3 linked regions of the Homo sapiens genome follow. The protein of the gene in region 3 purifies or fractionates together with the protein of the main gene of each other region. This does not show direct contact. Each region holds a gene or a part of one and is shown on either strand. Other genes may lie near its edges. The genes, in order: PHF6, WDR44 and PDXDC1.

Region 1 (3,653 bases), on a different chromosome or scaffold from region 3:
TTAAGAGAAATACTTAATTTATACAGAAGGATGAATTTCTCAACTCTGAAGAGTGTTATATATTACTGGTCTTGTTTCAGGTTACTTGGGTAGAATTACAATTTCTTGATATATTTAAAAACAGGGCAAAAAAAAATTTTTTTTTTTGAGACAGGACCTCACTTTATCACCCAGGCTAGATGGATACAGTGGCACAATCATAGCTCACCACAGCCTCGAACTCCTGAGCTTACACAATCCTCCCACCTCAGCCTCTTGAGTAGCTAGGTCTACAGGAACATGCCACATTTCAAAATTTTTAAATTTTTTTGTAGAGATAGGGGTCTCACTTTGTTGTCCAGGCTGGTCTTCAACTCCTGGCCTCAAGCAATCCTCCCAGTCGGCCTCCCAAAGCACTAGGATTACACGTGTCAGCCAATCCTTAGGCCAAAAATCTTATCTTGAGTGGCTTGTAGGAAATCTTGCATAGGGGTAAGACAGGTGAACTAAATGGCCTTCTGAACTCTTTCTCTTCTTGTAATCTGTGATATAATCTGACACCGGTACCAATTAGAATAATAGCTATCTGCAGAGGCAGGCGGATCACCTGAGGTCAGGAGTTTGAGACCTGCCTGGCCAACGTGGTAAACCCTGTCTCTACTAAAAATACAAAAAATTAGCTGGGCGTGGTGGTGGGCGCCTATAATTGCAGCCAATGGGGAGGCTGAGGCAGGGGAATTGCTTGAACCTGGGAGGCGGAGTTGCAGTGAGCCGAGATCATGTCACTGCAATCCAGCCTAGGCAACAAGAGGGAAACTCCATCTTAAAAAAAAAAAAAAAAAAAGAAGAATAGCTATCCAATGTAGATAGTAGATACCCTTAGTAATCTCACCAGCTAGCTTCATCCAGAAACGGTAAATTCTTCAAATATCCTTCTTTCAAGTATCTCCTTAAATTCAAAAAAGCAGTGCTAACTCATAATTTTACTTGGAAATTTGCATTTCTTGGCTAGATGACTGGAGTTAAGTAAGAATAGATGGTACAGATGTGGTATCTCCATATGGCTTCAGTAGAAACTGGAAATCATACTGGAAAAATATATATCTGTCTAAACTGCAAAAACAGGGCATCAAATCATAAAAGCCTTAGTACTCTGGCAAATTTTTCCTGGTCCATCTTGGTGCTATATAATTAAAGACCGTGTAAAGGAGATGAAAATGTTCATGCAGAATGGCTTTCCTCCTTTGATCCTTGTGGCTGACATGAACCTTGGAAAATTGCCTGTGGCAGCAAGAACATAAAAACCAAACACTCACACCTCCTGCTCTACTGAGCCCTCTCATCCTCAACTCTGACCCACCTGGCTGTTGATACGTACACTTTAACCTCAAGCCCTAGCCTCCTTATCTCTCTGTTCTTTTCTTTGGGGCAAGCGAGCAACTTTGGAGTCAACACCAGGTACAGATTGAAATTTGTCTTGAAAGCACTCAGGGTTCAGTACTCCAGTTTTCGATGATTTTGAATGAGTGTTCATGACCTACTTTTCACCTAGAAATCCAGATGAACAGGAGCCAAAGCAAACAGGCTCACGGGATAAAATGCCTTAAAAAGTCAATTAGGGGCCAGGCATGGTGGTGCACGCCTGTAATCCCAGCACTTTGGGAGGCCGAGGCTGGTAGATCACCTGAGGTCAGGAGTTCGCGACCAGCCTAACATGGTGAAACCCCGTCTCTACTAAATACAAAAAAATTAGCTGGGCATGGTGGCACATGCCTGTAATCTGACCTACTTGGGAGGCTGAGACAGGAAAATCGCTTGTACCTAGGAGGCGGAGGTTGCAGTGAGCCGAGATCGCGCCATTGCACTCCAGCCTGGGCAACAAGAGCGAAACTCCATCTCAAAAAAAAAAAAAAAATGTCAATTAGGGAAGCTGATTACCTAGTTTATATGCAGTTTATCTAGTTACATTAAGCTCTTCACTCTTTTTCCCCCCTCCTATTTGATTCATAGCCCTTTTATTGCTTAGACAAATTGACACAGGGAATAGTAGAGAATCAAACTTAAATCTAGAATTTTGGTTACCTGATAGCACATCATGTAAAAATGATATAATGAAAGAAGCAAAACTGAAGGCTAAAAGGAGTTTCAAAAATTATTTCAAACCTAAACGTATGTTACATTCCTATCCCCTATATAAGTTGTTTAAACTGACATTCTAAGGGAAGGAAACGGAGCAAAAGTTCTTCCCTTCTGCCACTATTCCTCAGTGCTCACACCTGGAATCCCCGCACTTTGGGAGGCCGAGGCGGACAGACGGTCTCAAGTGAGGAATTCAAGACCAGCCTGGCCAATGTGGCAAAACCCTGTCTCTACTAAAAATAAAAAAAAAATTAAAAATTAGCCAGGCATGGTGGCACACACCTGTAGTCCCAGCTACTCGGGAGGCTGAGGCAGGAGAATTGCTTGAACCCAGTGGAGGCTGCAGTGAGCCGAGATCGCACCACTGCACTCCAGCCTGGGCAACAGAGCAAGACTCCATCTCAAAAACAAAAACAAACAAAAACAATAAGTGGTGGCTACTATTTATCAAGTCCTAACCATGTGCCCAGCACCACCTTAAATCCTATATACTTCCTCTTTTAATTCTGGCAATAATTCTGGGAGGCAAGTACTGTCATTATCTAACCCCTTTTGCAGGTGAGGAAAACATGGCCTGGAGAAGTAAATAACTTAATCAGGATCACCTAGCTAGTAAATGACAGAGCTGGGATTCAAACTCAAGTCTGTCACTAAAGCTTGTGTTCTCAATTCCCAGTATTGTTCCATTCCCTAGATCAAGGAACAAATTTCGTTATTTGTAACACACTACATTTGGGGAAAAAATTATCTCCCTACACTATAACACTAAAAATTAATCAAAACAATTTATAATAGTAAAACTCATACAAAGTTCTGATGCTTTAACGAATAGGTCCAAGGCCGGGCGCGGTGGCTCACACCTGTAATCCCAGAACTTTGGGAGGCCGAGGCAGGTAGGTCACGAGGTCAGGAGATTGAGACCAAGGTGAAACCCCGTCTCTACTAAAAATACAAAAAATTAGCCAGGCACAGTGATGGGCGCCTGTAGTCCCAGCTACTTGGGAGGCTGAGGCAGGAGAATGGTGTGAACCTGGGAGGTGGAGCTTGCAGTGAGCCGAGATCACGCCACTGCACTCCAGCCTGGGCGACAGAGCGAGACTCTGTCAAAAAAAAAAAAAAAAAGGTCCAAATAAATTAAATCTCCACTGAACTTCGCAATATTGACAGATGTATGCTGTTGCTTCATGTAGTGTAACACTAGGCATTGCATTTGTTAATAATGTTTCAACATTAGGGACCAAAACTGCTTTTGTTCTGACTATACAAGCTGTGTCAAGTGACAAAATGCTAACAAGTCAGGATACAGAAATATTTTCCAGGGATAGTCATAATGTCAAGCAATAAATAAAGGGGTAATAAGGTTTACAGCACAATCACTTTCAAGTAAGTATCATTCTTTTTTATATCTGCATTTATTTTAAGGACTAGGAAATAAAAACATAGTGCTATGGTTCTCAGAAATCAGCACAGTAACGTGAAGAAACCTAAAACCACCAAATAAAATCCACATTTGAAAAACAGGGCTTTCTAGGCTG
Region 2 (3,653 bases), on a different chromosome or scaffold from region 3:
GCTTTTTCAGAAGCAAGGTCATTTTCTGACCTGGCTACCATGCCGTAATCAATTATGTCAAAGCTTAAAATGAAGGGCATAAAAATACTGCTTTTCATTGTTTGAAACAGTAACTTTTTAAAAGAACTTTGAAAACAAATGCCCACCGTTAGTTAGCATTATGGTGTTATGGTGTTATCGTTCTTTGCATGTAACATGTAGCACTATAATATTTCTTTCTTACTGTGAACACATTCATTCCTGAAAAAAAAGTTGGTAACAAGGAACTGATAGGAATGCAGGATAACTGGCAACACCACCCAAGGTTTTACTGTTAACATTTAATATTTACTGGGTATAGGATGTCCTCAAGTTATGAAGATCCTATACATCCAAAGCACTCTCTTTGCCTCAGCTCCCTTACCTACCTCCTCTTATAGGAACTGGTACCTGTGTGTGTTTAAGGGTGACTGGAGATTGGAGAGAACCAGGAAGTTCAAAATCAGAACCAATTGTGAAGCGCAGTAGATACCACAGAGCATGCTTACTCACCACCCGCCTCCCCAACTAAACCTTGTGTGCACTGCTAGACATAACTGTGGACTATGCTGGGAAATAAGGCAAAGGTTAAAAGTCAACAGCTAAGGGCTATGATCTGGGACATAATAGGCACAGTAAGGTGCACTTAAAGGAAAAAGGACTGATCTCAATCATTAACCTTAACCCTTAAGCCAAGCTAATAAAGATAAAATACCCATTGCAAAATACAGACAAATCTACTTGCTTTCACTCACAAAGCTACTAGTTTTATCAAGCTACTTGTTCATTCTGCTCACCCATCTTTCACTAATCCAATGACTAAGCACCACCTGTAACACTAAAGTCTTTACCAACTTGTCCACCATATCCAATGCAACCAATTTTTCCCTTACTCCTTCCAAAAGTTCCCACCCTTTATATTTCTTCCATCACTGACCCTTCTCAGTTTTAAGGGACAAGAAGTAGTTATACTAGGAAATCTCTGTACTAATGACATTGACTATGCTAGGAAAGAAAAAGCTGGCAGTGAAAGGGGTGGAGTTGGGGCTGAGTGAAATGTTCAATCCACCTGCCATTTTAGTTTGGCATGGATAGGTAATATATTTTAAAAGACAGATTTAAAAAAAAAATTCAATTGTTAACAGTACTGCTAATAACCAGAAAGATGATTCCCTTAGTCTTCCAATTTCAATAAATACTTTCAGGCACAGAATTAAAAGAGGACTATGGATATTAAGTTCATCCACAGCTATTCTTACCAGTTCAAGAACAATGTCAGAAAGAATACTCCCACCTCTTCTCTTGAGCTTGCTTAGTAATCAGGATGCTTGCTCCTGGGACAGTGAGTTTGCATACAGCACTACATACTATTTATAGGTTCTCTAGAAAGTTTGATCTGTGGTTCATAAGAATGCCCATGGTTCAATGAGTTTTGTACTGGAATAGTCTATTACAATTAGTAGTGGCCAAGTAGGTTTTATACAGATATAGATAGCTTGTTACAGGTATGGCTTGTTCTGTATAGGATACCTATTAGAAAATACCATTCAGTGTATACCTATGTAACAAAACTGCATGTTCTGCACATGTACCCCAGAACTTAAAGTATAATAAAAAAAAATACCATTCAAGTTTTCCCTCAGAAGTTTCAAAAAATCTTATATTTCATCCTCAGATTTTTTAAAAACCTGACTCCCCCTTTGAAAAATTTTAAAGATCAGGACTCTGTGGAGAAAGTGAAACCAGTCTTAAGTCTATTTGTACAATTAAAGATTTCCTTGAAGCATTATCATAATTTAACTATAGTTTTTTTTTTTTTTTAAGAGACAGAGTCTGGCTCCATCGCCCAGGCCAGAGTACAGTGGCGTGACCATAGCTCACTGCACCCTCGACCTCCTGGGCCCAAGCAATCCTCCTGCCCCAATCTCCCAAATAGCTAGAACTATAGGCATGCACCATCATGTCCAACTAATTTTTAAAAACTTTTTGTAGAGATGAGGTCTTGCTACATTGCCCAGGCTGGTCTCAAACTCCTGGCTTCAAGTGATCCCTCCACCTCAGCCTCTCATGGCACTGGGATTACAGGCATGAGCTTCTGTACCTGGCCAATCCTTGTTTTGACCAAAACAGGTAAACATATTTATAATTTAAAACTATTTTAGTTACATGAATTCTGAGATTTTTAAGAGTTAAAAAAGTATGTCAAATAAATATAAAAAAAAAGACCCATACAACTATTCAGTCTTTACTGTTCTCTTCCTGTTTATTCAAGGGCTACAAAAGATAACACTTCCTATTAGTTTTCTAAACAGTTTTCTCAAATTAAAATGAATTAATCTAAAGGCCAAACATTCTTTCTACAACCTATAGAAATCATTTTTGTTAAAAGCTGGATTATTTGGTAGCTGCTGATGATCAAGATGCTTTTAAGTCATTTTAGCTAGTTTGTGATGATACTGAGTCTAAAATCACATTTGCAAATATATTTCCTAAATGGTCACCCTCGATCTGGAAATTGATTCTACTTGTTATTATAAAGGGATGGCTATTGGATGCAGTGATGCAATGCATTCAATCTTCAGGGCAATGACTAACACTGGATTGAGAAAATTAGTATGAGGAAATTGCTGCCTAAACATGTTTTTGTTAAATTATATATGTTTAAAATGTTTAAAAAGGTTTGGAGACAAAAAGGTTTTGTGGACTTAAAAAACAACTGACTCTGATGGAATGCCAAACTGTGAACTGCCAGACAGTTGCAGCTGGTAATAGAACTCTAAGACCTGAAGCGCTCTGGCAGAACCTGATTATATGGTAATCCTAGTATCTGAGAGAAGGCAAAAGAGCTAGAAGAATAACTGATAGACTGGTTGCTATAGTAACCAAGATAAATTTGTATACTGACTGAGGAAAAACATCAGGGTTGCCATCAGGTATGAGGCCCACATTATGTCGTAGGTGCTTTTTCCTCGGTTTTGAATCATGAGATGACAGACTAACACAAACACTGCTGAGTTTGAAATAAGGGAATAGAAAGAGTTTCACTCTGAAGAGTAAGGAAAGCACCCTATTAAAGGTTTAGCTGGTTAGCTGAATAATATCCAACAGTGAGAGGGGAACAGTCCTTGTGAAAGTTTGTAGATATTAGCCTAACTATGGATAGAAATGAGAAACATAGGTTATTTATCAATTCAAGCTAAATATCAGTAGGACATCATAAAGTACCTACAATTTTTGTTACTTTAACTTTGATTTGAGGTATTTCTTATAGGTTATTAATCTCTTAGAGAAGGGGTTATTTAATTCATGCTGTGAACATGTGTATCAAAATGATGGGATTTGTCTTATCTCAGTTATCCATGCCCCAGGAAGCAGCACTGTAACTTGGTCTCTATACCTACTGCTGGGGCTACCTTTACCTCTTCCACCTCCATCACCACAACCTGCATGATCTCTTTATACTCCCTTCCTCCACCTCCACTACTACCCCAGGAAGTAACTAACAAAATTGCAGAGTATGAGGAGGAAACAAGCAGCCTCTTAAAGGTGCTTGCCTGGCAAATTCACCTGATTCTGTCAAAGTCTTAACAATGAACTTAAGAGTACAAACACATGGAGTGTTGGGTAATGTAAAG
Region 3 (3,653 bases):
TTTTTTTTTTTTGAGATGGAGTCTCCTCTGTCCCCCAGGCTGGAGTGCAGTGGTGTAATCTCAGCTCACTGCAACCTCGGCCTCCCAGGTTCAAGTGATTCTCCTGCCTCAGCCTCCCAAGTAGCTGGGACTGCAGGTGTGTACCACCATGCCTGGCTAATTTTTTGTATTCTTAGTAGGGGCGGGATTTCACTATGTTGGCCAGGCTGGTCTCGAACTCCTGACCTCAGATGATCTGCCTGCCTTGGCCTCCCAAGGTGCTGGGATTACAGGTGTGAGCCACCATGCCCGGCCAATTCAGGTGACTTCTGAATTCTCATTCTGATTCTGGTAAGTTACATGGGAATGCTAATCTACCTAAATTTAGCCCAAAAGAAAAGAAAATGCCCCTCCAAAAAGAGCTGCTAATAACTCTAGGAGAATGGAGTATCATAAGGGCAAGCTAATCTACCCAGCAGCCCCAGAACAAAAGCAAGGGATGTCCACCAAGCCTGGTTTACCTGCTGCGGTCATCAAAGGGCTGAACCGCAAACACGTGCCCTCAGCTTCCAGATCCATGACTGTGAGGCCGCTTGCAGGCACCAGCTGCTTCAGCTGTTCTCCCAGCTGTGAGGAGGACACAATGAACACCCTCCTGTAACAAGGGACTCAGACGTCTTCAGGACCCACCCTCATCCCCTCGGCCCCAGACCAAAGAGCCTCCTGGAGAGCTGATTCCTGCTCTTTTGACTGTCTGATTACTTAGAGCAGCTTTTTAAAAACAGTAAATTTTATGGTTTTTTCTTATTAATACAAGTTCATTGTAGAAAAATTTAGGAAATACAAGTAAACAAAAAGAAGAAAATAACAATGACCCACAATATATTACTAAGCGACACCCACTGCTGACATGTGGTCTGCCCCCAGCGTCTTTTCTCCTAGTGGCGGGCAGGGAGTTGTAGTTGTTGTCATAAAACATGCTACTTGACACTGCTTAGTAACCTGCATTGATTCATTTCGTTTATGACCAGTTCCTTTCTGCTTGAGACACTCAGCTCTGTGGTCTCTCACAGCTGTGCTGAGCCCCAGCATGGATGTACCAGGACTTATCTGCCAACCCTGCTAGGCTGGGCGTGTCCAGCATTGGCTAGAACTGCTGCTGCCGCCATCCCACACTGTTCACAAGACCCTTCAGACTCAAATCCTAGAGCTGCTATTCAGTGCCCAAAACGCTATCAAAGTGCAGGCCTGGCTCCACACTGCCAGCTGCAGATGCTCGGCAGACTCTGCCTGGGGCTCCCGGCTGTGCTGCCCAGGCTCACCAGAACCCACCGCAGCTGCCCTGCAGCCCACCTTTTGCCTGTTGTCTCACAGCCTTATACAGCAGCAAGGAAAGTGAGGGAGCAATGCCAGAAGGACTTGCCAGAGGTGACCCAGCTCGTGAGGTGGTAACGCAATGGGGAACAGAACTCCAGAGCAGGCCCAGCACTGGCAGGGCGGCTCCTCCTGTGGGCCTCAGTTCCCATACACGAGCACGCGTCACCCTCACCAGCAGGTCGGATGGTGATGGACGGGGACCTGAAAGGAAAGGGGGGTGACTGCCATTCTCACCCAGCGATTCAGCGCGTCACACGAGTGCCTCTCCCGGCCGACTCCTGAAGGTGTCATGTTGGGCACTGGGACGGCTTTAAACACCGGATCTGACACCAAAACACAGAAAGGGAGTCACTCCCAGAAACACGGCTGACCAAAAAAAACACCCTCCAAACCCCACATCATTCCCATCCCAATATTAGCCCCAGGGCACTGACTCGTATTACTGAATTCTCATGTATTATCTGACAGAAGGGCTACATTTCTTTTTCCTCGTGATCTATGTAACACTTGAATACATTCACATAAGACAGAATTATTAATTTCATTTTTGAAAAGGTTTGCTTTCAAGGGATTTCAAGGGGAAACAGCAATTGTTTTAAGTTACTAACTAGTTTACCAAGCACCGTGCGAGGTCTGTGAGTGCCACGATCATCTAACTAGGCCTCACAGTGGGTGCCAACCCGTGCCAGGCACAGAGCCCGACACTTGGGACAGAAGGCAGGTAAGGTTTCTGTCATCTTGGAGCTTACATTTTAGTTGAGGAAACAGACCATAAAGAAAGAAAATCACTCCATGTGGTTGTTAGTGTCACAAGTGAAGCTGGGGGCTCTGATAGAAAATGATGGAGTCCCCTCAGGCACGATAGGCAGGGAAGGCTGAGGATGTGGATACTTAGTGGAGACCGAAATGGTGAGGAGGAGCTGGCACCAGAAGAGAGAAATGTGTGTAAGACAGAGGGAACGCCGAGTGTTAAGCCCTTGCGGTAGGAAAGGGCAGAGTGTTCTGGAGCGCGGAGAAGACTGGTCTGACTGAGGCACAACGAACAAGAGGGAGAGTGGAAGGGGGGAAGGCAGAAGCGAATTCGGGGCAGAGTGTGCAGGCCTCATGGGGCATGGGAGAGCCTGGCCTTTGTTCGACCGAAATGGTAAGATACCCAGGGGCTCTGGGCAGGGAAGTGACACTGATACGGGAGTGCTGGGAAGGGAAGAGCGTGGTCCCTTTAAATGACACAGAAGCGGGGAAGGGAAGTGCTGGGGAGAGAAAGGCGGGTCCCTGGCTAGGACTCTACCCCCACGGACCTAGGTGAGGACAAGCACTCCTGCCTTCCCCCAAATGTTGCATTTCCCAAGACCACGCTGGCCCACCACACCACCATCCTGGGCCTATAAAAACCTGAGACCCTAGTGGGCAGACAGAAGTGGCTGGATGGCCAGAGGAACACATTGGTGGAAAAAGACACAAGCGGCTGGTCATGGAGAGCAGGCCGGCAGAAGAGCACCCCGACAGGCCCCGGCAAGCCAGCAGGCCATCAACCACGGGGACGAGGCGGAGTTTGGCCAGGGCCGCTGAGCGGCCCAACTCCAAGGGAAATCTGTCTCCCTTCTGGCTCCCCCATCAGCGGAGAGCTACTTTCATTCAATAAAACCTTGCACTCATTCTCCAAGCCCACATGTGATCCCATTCTTCCGGTACACCAAGACAAGAACCTGGGATACATTAATCCCTCTGTCCTTGTGATAAGGAAGGGGGTCTAAGTGAGCTAAAACAAGCTGCCTACAGACGGCTAAATTAAAAGAGCACACTGTAACACATGCCCGCTGGAGCCTTAGGAGCTGTAAAACATTCACCCCCAGATGCTGCCATGGGGTCGGAGCCCCACAGCCTGCCCGTCTGTATGCTCTCCTAGAGGTCTGAGCAGCAGCGGGGCACTGAAGAAGCGAGCCACACCCCCATCACATGCCCTGCGAGGGGGACAAGGGAACCTTTCCGGTTTCAACACCATGTGACTTCCACTTATAACCCTCTCTGCCAGGTGGAGAATGGTCTGGAATGGGCTGTGTAGAATGTATGAAAGTCAGAGGTCAGTTGACAGGGGACAATGGCCAACCAGGTAAAAAAAGAGTGGTGCCCTGGACTAGACTGGTGGCACTTGGGTCATTCTTTAAGATACAGATTCCTGGGCACAACCTATTGACTCAAAATATGTGGGAAGTAAGACCCACAAATCTTTATGTTCAAGCAACTCTTTCTTAGCCATTCCAGCACTGGTCCAGGGACTGGCATTTGGGAACCCCTGG

What was found.
Region 1: the proteins of PDXDC1 (region 3) and PHF6 fractionate together in Homo sapiens (co-fractionation; one large-scale study listed by BioGRID). This does not show direct contact.
Region 2: the proteins of PDXDC1 (region 3) and WDR44 fractionate together in Homo sapiens (co-fractionation; one large-scale study listed by BioGRID). This does not show direct contact.

What each region holds. Positions count from the first base shown.
Region 1 is NC_000023.11:134,379,737-134,383,389, reverse strand, and holds part of PHF6 (PHD finger protein 6), read right to left. Parts: intron 1-3,653.
Region 2 is NC_000023.11:118,352,606-118,356,258, reverse strand, and holds part of WDR44 (WD repeat-containing protein 44), read right to left. Parts: intron 1-3,653. UniProt on the Homo sapiens protein: Downstream effector for Rab11 which regulates Rab11 intracellular membrane trafficking functions such as endocytic recycling, intracellular ciliogenesis and protein export.
Region 3 is NC_000016.10:15,026,904-15,030,556, reverse strand, and holds part of PDXDC1 (pyridoxal-dependent decarboxylase domain-containing protein 1), read right to left. Parts: intron 1,680-3,653; coding exon 1,591-1,679; coding exon of another isoform or gene 1,525-1,590; exon of another isoform or gene 752-1,524; intron 607-751; coding exon 501-606; intron 1-500.